3 linked regions of the Homo sapiens genome follow. The protein of the gene in region 2 purifies or fractionates together with the protein of the main gene of each other region. This does not show direct contact. Each region holds a gene or a part of one and is shown on either strand. Other genes may lie near its edges.

Region 1 (3,750 bases), on a different chromosome or scaffold from region 2:
TGCCTGTAATCCCAGCACTTTAGGAGGCCGAGGTGGGCAGATCACCTGAGGTCAGGAGTTCAAGTCTAGCCTGGCCAACATGGTGAAACCCCATCTCTACTAAAAATACAAAAATTAGCGGAGCATTGGGGCGCACGCTTTTAATCCCAGCTCTTAGGGAGGCTGGGGCAGGAGAATCACTTGAACCCAGGAGGCAGAGGTTGCAGTGAGCCAAGATCACGCCACTGCACTGCAGCCCAGGTGACAGAGCAAGAGTCCGTCTCAAGAAAAAAAAAAAGAAAAGGGAAGGCTGGGTGCGGTAGCTCACGCCTATAATCTCAGCACTTTGGGAGGCCAAGGCAGGTGGATCACCTGAGGTTAGGAATTTGAGACCAGCCTGGCCTACGTGGTGAAACTCCATCTCTACTAAAAGTACAAAAATTAGCTGGGCTTGGTGGCGGGCGCCTGTAATCCCAGCTACTTGGGAAGCTGAGACAGGAGAATTGCTTGAACCCGGGGGGTAAAGACTGCAGTGAGCTGAGATCACATCACTGCACTCCAGCCTGGGCAACAGAGCAAGACTCCATCTCAGAAAAAAAGAAAAGGGGCCGGGCATGGTGCCTCACGCCTGTAATCCCAGCACTTTGCGTGGCTGAGGCAGGCGGATCACCTGACGTCAGGAGTTTGAGAACAGCCTGGCTGACATGGCGAAACCCCCTCTCTACTAAAAATACAAAAATTAGCTGGGCGTGGTGGTAGGTGCCTGTAATCCCAGCTACGTGGGAAGCTGGGGCAGGAGAATTGCTTGAACCCGGTAGGTGGAAGCTGCAGTGAGCCGAGACCATGCCATTGCACTCCAGCCTGGGCAACAAGAGTGAAACTCTGTCTCAAAAAAAAACAACAAAAAAACCCAAAAAACGAAAAGGGAACATGCGCAGTGACTCACGCCTGTAATCCCAACACTTTGGAAGGCCGAAGAGGGAGGACTGCTTGAGCCCAGGAATTCAAGACCAGACTGGGCAACATAGTGAGACTTTGTCTCTAAAAAAATAATAATAAATTTAAAGAAATAATTACAAAATAAGAACAACAACAAAAAAGAAAATTCAAGAACTCTGTTTTTTTTTTTTTTTAGATGGAGTTTCACTCTTGTCACCCAGCTGGAGTGCAATGGTGCAATCTCGGCTCACTGCTGGAGTGCAATGGTTCAATCTCAGCTCACTACAACCTCTACCTCCCAGATTCAAGCGATTCTCCTGCCTCAGCCTCCTGAGTAGCTGGGATTACATGCGCCCACCACCACGCCTGGCTAACATCTGTATTTTTAGTAGAGACAGTGTTTCACCATGTTGGCCAGGCTGGTCTCAAACTGCTGACCTCGGCTGATCCACCCGCCTCAGCCTCCCAAAGTGCTGGGATTACAGGCATGAGCCACTGCGCCTGGCCAAGAACTTTCAGTTTTAACAGAAAATAAGTCAGTAAAAACATAGCCCAGGGTTCCCACTTTTCTCATGGAAAACGCATGACCAATACCAAATTAGGGCAAGACTCTTTTCTTCCCTGCATAAAAGGACAGAGAATTGATATTAAGACTGAAGAGCTGAAATCGCCTCACTTTCTCCTTTGTATCTGATGGTTTCTAAAACAAGCAAGAGGTTTTTTTTTTCTCTTCTAGAGAAGAGATCATGAATACTGCCAGAGCCCAGAGAAAAATTCTTGCAAGAGGAATTTTTTGTGGCGTATTTTGGAAATAGAATGTGAGCTAGGTGAAAATAAAATTATCAATTGAGAGCTCCTTCTTGTGTAACCACCAGTTTTATTGTTTTCTTATTTTTTAATGTCAGTTTTATTATTTTCTAGCCATATCAGATTTCAAAAATAGACAACATTTTCTCTTGTAAAAAGAATTGTGTTTAAAAAAATCACGGGCAAGAGAACAAATGTGAAGATAAAGCAAAGTAATGTATTTTGGCCAAATTCCAGGTCCTTGGCTAGAATTAATTCTAATAGCTTCAGGTCTCTAAATTTTCACTTGTTTCTATACTTTGTTATTTACTCCATCGATATAATTATCTAACCTGTCTTCTACATTTCCTGAATTTCATTTTAATTCTTGTTCAGTTTACAAAATTATTTCTTGTAAAGGTTAATAATTTTCTCAGCCCTGCATAGATCCTTCTTCTTGACTGTACAAGCAGCTTTGGATGCTAAGTGTAGTACCAACCCTGTAATATTTCACTGGACTACATTTGGAACATATTCAGGGTACCTGGTTACCTCAAGTTTGTCTTACTTTACAGTTACATAAAGTAACTTAGTCTCAAGCAGCACTTTCTCTTTTTCTCTAAGTCTATACACAAACCTCTTTGGCTAGATGACAACTGCCTTTCCATATGTAAATTTCATGGAAGTAACAGCAACAATTTCACTGAGTCCCGCCGGGCGCGGTGGCTCATGCTTGTAATCCCAGCACTTTGGGAGGCCGAGGCGGGCGGATCACGAGGTCAGGATATTGAGAACACGGTGAAACCCTGTCTCTACTAAAAATACAAAAAATTAGCCGGGCGCAGTGGCGGGAGCCTGTAGTCCTAGCTACTCAGGCTGAGGCAGGAGAATGACGTGAACCCGGCAGGCGGAGTTTGCAGTGAGCCCAGATCGCGCCACTACACTCCAGCCTGGGCGACAGAGTGAGACTCCATCTCAAAAAAAAAAAAAAAAAAAAAGAAAGTGTTTTTCAAGAGGAAGAAAGGACAGGGTTATAAATGTATCTTTTAAATTGCTCTTGATATTTAGAACAAACTATGCATAACAGGTAAGCAACATCTATGGGAAGATTGATTTAATTTTCCTCTTACCTGTAAAACTTTACCATGGACCACAGTTCCAAGGACTCCCGAACACAGTCTTGGAGTTAAGCCTGTGAACAACCCGCGCCTCCCATCGATACTGGCAATGTGCTGAGCTAAGAACACAAGTCAGAGATGTTGTCAAGTTCTGGTCAAGAGAAATGGATATACTACAATTTCAAAGAAACAAGCTTTCTATATATTTTCTTTCAATAACAACTCCTGCCTATCACAGTCCTCAACGTCATGCAAACCCAAATAAATCAAAGGCACTTACCATAACTAAAGAGACCAGGAAGCTGACACACTTGCCGCCCAAAAATATTTCGTCCTATTGTTGGAGGAAGAGGCTCATATCCCACCTTTAAAAACAATGGAATATATCAATATTAAAGCAATATTTCCAGAAATGTCTTGCTTGCAAGGTCTTGAATAAAGAACACAATTTGGGTTATTTTTAAACACAAGTAAAAATGCAGCATAGGTTTTCCAAGGCAATGATGAAGCATCATTCTTGTAGGTTTTTCTTCTGTTGGTAATACTGAGTTCAATAAACTCCAAGTTTCATTTTGGTTCAAATTCTATGACGTAAACCATGTAGCTGAAATAGGCTAATATCAAACTGAAAGAAGGGAACTTTTGCGTTAGGAAAGCTACAGTTTACTAAGGGGGCTCAAAAATACCTTCTAAATAAAATCTAAGGCACATTTTGTATTTGAACAAAACTAGAAGACATCCATTACGCCAGCATCAGCTGCATATTTGGCAACCCAGACAAAACACTCAAAAGGCAAATGCAGATATAGCTGGATAATTCACTTAGGAAAGAATTACAAGCTAACTTCATGTTAGAAGAACAGGCTGTCGGTCGGGCGCAGTGGCTCATGCCTTGTAATCCCAGTACTTTGGGAGACCGAGGGGGATG
Region 2 (3,750 bases):
AAAAGAAAAAAGAAAAAAAAACCTAAGGGAAAAAGGAATGTCTCCACATTGTTGTTTTTACCCCCAGTCTCTCTGTATGAAATTCTTGGCCGGGTGCGGTGGCTCACGCCTGTAATCCCAGCACTTTGGGAGGCCGAGGCAGGTGGATCACGAGGTCAGGAGTTCGAGACCAGCCTGGCCAATATGGTGAAACCCCGTCTCTACTAAAAATACAAAAATTAGCTGGGCGTGATGGCGCACGCCTGTAGTCCCAGCTGCTTGGGAGGCTGAGGCAGGAGAATCGCTTGAACCCGGGAGGCGGAGGTTGCAGTGAGCCAAGATCGTGGCACTGCACTCCAGCCTGGGCGACCGAGTGAGACTCTGTCTCAAACAAAAAAAAAAAAAAAGAAAGAAATTCTTAAAGACTGTCAAATGTCAGCATGCAGTTTGGCCCTAACCACAGCTCTTTTCTCTGCAAAGGAGAAAAAGGCAAAGCCCATAACATTGCTGGAAGAGCTGATGGACCATGGAAGCTGTTGTGGAGAAGCTTCACACAACTAAAGAAATAGCCCTTAATTTACAACCTGGGCTGACAGTTTGTTTCAGGCTGACTCAACCCACCCGAACAATCTGTCTCAGCACACCGAAGTGTCTCATGCCAAAAGATCCTAAGAGGGCTGGGCAACTTGGAAGGGATGAGACACAGGCCCAGATGGTGCACATCTGGCCAAAAATTAGAAAGAGAAAGAAATCAGCCTCTCAAATCCACAGACAGGTGTTCGGGGCTTCCCAGGAGACCTGCTTATGAAGGGCAACGGGGATGGCTATGGACTGGTGGTTAGTGAAGGAACAACAAAGGTTTCTGAGACTTGCGCAGGTCAGCGGGAACCAAACAGGTGGCAAGAGTGGGCTGCTGTCCACCTTCCCTTGACAATGGCGTCATTTCGAAGACCTTTAAATTATTTAGATTGTTGTAACCAAGACATCTTTAATAATGCACCAAACAGCAGGCACCAGGTTGAAATCAATTAGACTCCACCGATAAATTATAAGGGAGAAATTTACAGGAGAATGGCTCTGGGGTAGGGACTGCAGGTACACATGCCTGCCAGAGACAATTATATCAGGAACCAAATAGTTATTGCTTTGTCATTTAAGCAGCAGAAAAGATGGCCAGGTGCTCCTAAATTAGAGCAATAACAAATAACTAAAATGAGGAGGCCTGTTCTGGGCAGGAAGGCTTCTGGGTGGCCAAGAGAAAAGACAATGGAGGTAGGAACAAATGTCATTTGGGGGATATCTAGGATCCGGATGCACCCTGCACTGGGGGCACCTCGCGCTTCTTCCAGGAGTTTGGGGCCAGTGGGGTAACAGGTGGTATCACAGGGGTTTGTCTCCCAGAGGATGACAATCTCCTGGAGGTGACTTCAAAGTTTCCCTTTCTAGGCAGGACGCGGTGGCTCATGCCTGTAATCCCAGCACTTTGGGAGGCCGAGGATCTCCTGAGTTCAGGAGCCTCAGACCAGCCTGGCCAACATGGTGAAACCGTGTCTCTACCAAAAATACAAAAAAATTAACTGGGCGTGGTGGCGCGCGCCTGGAGTCCCAGCTACTCGGGAGGCTGAGGCAGGAGAATCGCTTGAACCCGGGAGGTGGAGGCTTCAGTGAGCCGGGATTGCGCCACTGCACACACACCAGGCTGGGCGACAGAGTATGACTCCGTCTCAAAAAAAAAAAAAAAAAGCAAAGTTTCCCTTTCTAGTACAGGAAAAGCCCTAGGGAGTCCTGGCTGGATCTCAGGCCCCCGAGGACGCAGCCACGCCGCGTGCCACGCGTCCATTGGGAGCACGAAGAGACACCCGCGTGGTCACCCCGCCAGGGCTGCCTAGGCGCCGCGTCCCGCCCTAGGCCGCGCGGGGGCGCAAAGCGCAGGCGCACTCCCGCCGGGCGCGGACGGCTCCGGGCCGCCAGGGGCCGCTGTGGCGCAGCCGGGCTGGCCCGCGCTGTCCCTGACGCGGATCACTGGCCCCTCTTGAGCACGGCCTTGCCGGTTTGGCGGGGTGAAAGGTTGCGAAGATGGCGACGGCCTTGAGCGAGGAGGAGCTGGACAATGAAGACTATTACTCGTTGCTGAACGTGCGCAGGGAGGTGAGGCCAGCGGCTGGACGCTCTGGGGGCTGAGGCCGAGCCCGGTCGTTCGGGAGGGCCGGGCTGGCGGTGGCCGCCCCACCCCCGCCACGGGAGGCTCGGGTCCGTCGGGGAGGCCGCGTGACCCCGGCGACGTGCACGCCAGCCGCCCGATGGAGGCGTCCCCACCGCCCAGACCCTCCCGCCGGGGGTTCCGGGGCCAGCCTCCGCCCCAGCTCCTGAAGGCCAGTGCGCCGCGTGCACTGTGTCCGGGTAGGGCCAGAGGCCCCCGCACGCTCAAGAGGAAACGGGGGCCCCGAGGAGGCCACCGTAGTGGGGTTAGCAGTCCTCCGAGACCCCGTCTCGCGCTCAGCCCACATACTCGTCCTGGCTGAGGGGCTGTGTCATCGCCCGCCGCCAGCAGGATGGCGAACTGAGTCTCACCCACCAAGGTCAAGGCCACTAGGGAACGTCCTTAGGGCTTTTTCCGGTTCCCGAGTCTTTCGTGGGGACGCTCTGCCTCTGAAGTGGGTCCAGCCTCAGAGGCATGCGTCTCATGCCCTCTTTCATTCCCCTGGACCCGATGTCCAGAAATTGCAGGCAGAGCCTCCGGGACACAGACCCTCGGCTCGGAGGCTGCAGATTAGGAAGAAGCCCTAGGCCAGAAAAGTGGTGCCCTAACAACAGCTTCAACATTCACACCAAGCACTTGTACCCTGTCTCCTCAACGAATAAAAGATAACATGAGAGAGTCTCACATAGCCTGGCAGTAGTAGGGCCCCACTACACTCCTTTGTTCTTGACTAGTCTGGAGTTGAGATAGGTGTGAAGGGCGAGAAGGCTTCCAGGGTCAGGTCATGAGGTGGATCAGTTTCTTTAAGCCGATGGGTCCAGACTTTTCAGCCCTGCCAGAGAATTCCTAATTCCATCTCTCAGGTTTTCCAGTGGTAATGAAAGCTAGCCAAGTTTGGCTATGCTAACCAAAGCGGGTTCAGTGTGTGTTGTCAGTAAATATTAGTCTATGTGATGTTAATAATACAAACTTATCTTGTGTGGGACCACTATGCTGAATGAACTTTGTACTGTTATCTCATTTAATTCTGAGGATAGCTCTTAAGGTAAGTATTATGATAGCCCTTGATTTACACTTGAGGAAACCAAGGCATAGAGAGATTAAGTAGTGTGTCTAAAGTCACACTACTAGAAAGTGCAAGAGCCTGAACTCAACCCAGGCAGTCTGACTCTGGAGCCCAGCTTGTGAGCTCCATGCTAGTCTGTCACCTTACCTTACCAGTCCTTGGACTACAAAGCTGCTAGTTCTGGTACTGTATCCTTGAGTGTCACGCGCGTCCGTGTGAAGAGACCACCAAACAGGCTTTGTGTGAGCAATAAACCTTTTTAATCACCTGGGTGCGTATGGGCTGAGTCCGAAAAGAGAGTCAGCAAAGGGTGGTGGGATTATCATTAGTTCTTATAGGTTTGGGATAGGCGGTGGAGTTAGGAGCAATTTTTTGTGGGCAGGGGGTGGATCTCACAAAGTACATTCTCAAGAGTGGGGAGAATATTACAAAGTACCTTCTTAAGGGCGGAATATCACAAAGTACATTATCACAAGGGCGGGGAGCGTGTATTGTCATAAGGCCA
Region 3 (3,750 bases), on a different chromosome or scaffold from region 2:
GCAACCTCCGTCTCCTGGGTTCAAACGTCTCCTGGATTCCCTTACCTCAGCCTCCCAAGTAGCTAGGATTACAGCCGCCCAGCACCACGCCTGGCTAATTTTTGTATTTGAGTAGAAACGGGGTTTTGCCACGTTGGCCAGACTGGGTATTTTACTTTTCAGTGATTTATTTTTATATTTTAAAAAATGGACACGATAATTGTACGTATTCATGGGGGTACATAGTGATGTTGTGGTGTATGTGATGTATAGTGATCAGATCAGGGTAATTAGCATGTCCATCATCACAAACGTTTATCCTTTTGAATATTTTCAGTCCATGGTTGGTTGAGTCCATGAATGTGGACCACATTCTACATAAAGAGGCTGACTGTGTATTCTTCCTCAACTCTGTTTTTTTTTTGAGAGAGACTCTTGCCCTGTCCCCCAGACTGGAGTGCAGTGGTGCGATCTTGGCTCACTGCGACCTCTGCCTCCCGGGTTCAAGTGATTCTCCTGCCTCAGCCTCCCTAGTAGCTGGGATTATAGGCACCTGCTTGGTAGCCCGGCTAATTTTTGTATTTTTAGTGGAGACCGGGTTTCACCATGTTGACCAGACTGGTCTTGAACTCCTGACCTCAAGTGATCTGTCCGTCTTGGCCTCCCAAAGTGCTGGAATTACAGGGATGAGCCACTGCACCTAGCTCCGTCAATTTTTTTGTTTTTTTTTTGTTCTTGAGATGGCATCTTGCTCCGTCACCCAGGCTGGAGTGCAGTGGCGCGATTTCCGCTCACTGCAACCTCTGCCTCCCGAGTTCAAGCGATTCTCCTGCCTAAGCCTCCTGAGTAGCTGGGACAACAGGCGCCCGCCACCACACCCGGCTAATTTTTTGTATTTTAGTAGAGGCAGAGTTTCACCATGTTGTCCAGGATGGTCTCGATCTTCCGACCTTGTGATCCGCCCGCCTCAGCCTCCCAAAGTGTTGGGATTACAGGCATGAGCCACCGCACCTGGCCGTCCCTCAACTCTTTTCCAGTGTACCTGGGTCCCCTAATACAGTAGCTAACACTTAACTACAGTTCCATACGTGGTAACACATTTAATCTTCACAACAGTCCCAGGAGGTAGTGATAATATTATTCGCATTTACCGGTGAGGAAACTGAGACACAGAGAGGTTAGTAATTTGCCCAAGGTTTCCAAGCTATGTTGGAGTCAGAGTTTTGATAAATAAAATCAACTTCATACACTAGTAATAATGGCAGCTAAGGTTTATTGAATGTTTACTATGTGCCAGGCACTGTACTGAGTACTTTATGTGCATTATCTCATGTAATCCTCACAACAGTCTTGTTAGGTGGATAGTATTATTTCTGTTTTACAAATGAGGTAACTTGCCGAGAGTCAAACAGCTTGTAAATGGTGGGCGGAGTCAGGATTCAAACTCAGGTACTGTATATGCCTGAATTTTTAATTAAGCACCCGCTCACAGTTAACTCCCAGCAGGAAGGAATCAGCTTCGAGTGTTTTTATTAATATTATTGAGACAGGGTCTCCATCTGTCATCCAGGCTGGAGTACAGTGGTGCGATCATGGCCTACTGCAGCCTCCACCTCCTGGGCTTAAGCAGTCCTCTCACTTCAGCCTCCCAAGTAACTGAAGCTACAGGTGCACGCCACTACACTTGGCTAATTTTTAAATTTTTATGTAGAGAGAGGGTCTTGCTATGTTTCCCAGGCTAGTCTTGAACTCCTGACCTCAAATGATCCTCCTGCCTTGACCTCCCAAAGTGTTGGGATTACAGGCATGAGCCATTGCTCCCCAGCGAGATATTCTTTCAGTTGTTTTATTTTGAACTAGTACGACTGAGGAAACAAAGACGCATCAACTTGAATCCCCATTGCTAGTTGGGTATGGTTAAGAGTGTCAGTTATAGAATTAGTTTAAAAAAAGAGGGTGGGGTCAAAGAAATTAAACATAGGCGTAATTCCTGGGTGAAAGATGTGCAATTGTGAATGTTGGATGTCATTGTAAATATGTTTTAAAGTCCCCTTTAAAAAGCAGTACCTCACTTCAGCCTGGGTGACAAAGTGAAACCCTGTCTCAAAAAATAAATAAATAAATAAAAAATAAAAGCAATACCTTGAATGGCTGTGACAAGTGACAGAATATCCTAATGTTAAGCATATGTATACTTACTGTGTGGGATAAAATTTCTATTGACAGCTTCAATTTTGGATTCAAAATTGTACTTTAGACAACTTAAAGTGTAGGTTCTATACTCTGGAAAACTGTTGAAGAACCTAAAAAGTGGTTCTGGTCAAAGATCTGTATAATGAGTTTGAATGAAAATTATTCCTGTGAAAGGTGAGAGAGGAATAAAAACAATACTTCTAAGTTAATATTTGATTATAATATTATGTATAACTAAATTAATACATGTAACTAAATTAAATATTCTAACTAGTATTAGGCTAATTCATCGGTATCCCCAAAAGTTATTAAAATTGGCACTCAAAAATTATTTGGATCTTCAGAATCATTTATGTTTGGCCATTTACTGTAGAACCCAGGTTTTTGGCCAGCTCACGCCTATAATTCCAACACTTTGGGAGGCTGAGGCAGGCAGATGGATCCCTTGAGTACAGGAGTTCGAGACCAGCCTGGGCAACATGGCAAAACCGTGCAAAAAATACAAAAAATTAGCTGGGCGTAGTGGCATGTGCCTGTAGTCCTAGTTACTCACAAGTCTGAGGTGGAGGATTGCTTGAGCCAAGGATGTTGAGACTGTAGTGAGCCTTGATGGCGGCACTGCACTCTAGCTTGGGTGACAGAGTTTAGAACCTCTCTAAAAACAAAACCAAAAACAAAAAACTAGGTCTTAACCACCAGGCTATACTACCTGCATACAGGATAGAAATCATTGGATTGAAACTAAGTTCTTTCATTATGATAGTCGGGAGGGTTTACGTAGTCTAGTTTTGTTCTTCTAGTAGTTAGGTTGAAAGTATTATATACTTTTCTTTTTATCTTGTGTGTTTGATAGCACCAAAGACTCTGCACAGAAGCAGAAGAACTCGCCTCTGTTGAGTGTAAGTAGCCAAACAATAACCAAGGAGAATAACAGAAATGTCCATTTGGAGCACTCAGAGCAGAATCCTGGTTCATCAGCAGGTGACACCTCAGCAGCGCACCAGGTGGTTTTAGGAGAAAACTTGATAGCCACAGCCCTTTGTCTTTCTGGCAGTGGGTCTCAGTCTGATTTGAAGGATGTGGCCAGCACAGCAGGAGAGGAGGGGGACACAAGCCTTCGGGAGAGCCTCCATCCAGTCACTCGGTCTCTTAAGGCAGGGTGCCATACTAAGCAGCTTGCCTCCAGGAATTGCTCTGAAGAGAAATCCCCACAAACCTCCATCCTAAAGGAAGGTAACAGGGACACAAGCTTGGATTTCCGACCTGTAGTGTCTCCAGCAAATGGGGTTGAAGGAGTCCGAGTGGATCAGGATGATGATCAAGATAGCTCTTCCCTGAAGCTTTCTCAGAACATTGCTGTACAGGTCAAGTGTCAAGTTTCTACTACTAAAATGTAATTGGGGGGTGGTGGGGTTCAGGGTGGGAGATATTTCTTCATATTTGGTGGAGAACTTGCTGGCTTGTTTTGTTTTTTGTTTTTTTTGCTAGCAACCATCATACTACTCTCATACAGTGCCATACAATGACTTCATTCTGATGTTCAGTAAATAAGAAAGCCAGTAGCCATTGTCTAATCTT

The links.
Region 1: the proteins of DNAJC11 (region 2) and MTCH2 purify together in Homo sapiens (affinity purification with mass spectrometry; 2 studies listed by BioGRID and IntAct, with this or other methods). This does not show direct contact.
Region 3: the proteins of DNAJC11 (region 2) and RNF214 purify together in Homo sapiens (affinity purification with mass spectrometry; 2 studies listed by BioGRID and IntAct, with this or other methods). This does not show direct contact.

What each region holds. Positions count from the first base shown.
Region 1 is NC_000011.10:47,635,865-47,639,614, forward strand, and holds part of MTCH2 (mitochondrial carrier homolog 2), read right to left. Parts: intron 3,188-3,750; coding exon 3,103-3,187; intron 2,942-3,102; coding exon 2,835-2,941; intron 1-2,834. UniProt on the Homo sapiens protein: Protein insertase that mediates insertion of transmembrane proteins into the mitochondrial outer membrane. Catalyzes insertion of proteins with alpha-helical transmembrane regions, such as signal-anchored, tail-anchored and multi-pass membrane proteins.
Region 2 is NC_000001.11:6,700,106-6,703,855, reverse strand, and holds the start of DNAJC11 (dnaJ homolog subfamily C member 11), read left to right. Parts: upstream 1-2,039; 5' UTR 2,040-2,055; coding exon 2,056-2,127; intron 2,128-3,750.
Region 3 is NC_000011.10:117,235,576-117,239,325, forward strand, and holds part of RNF214 (RING finger protein 214), read left to right. Parts: intron 1-3,025; coding exon 3,026-3,536; intron 3,537-3,750.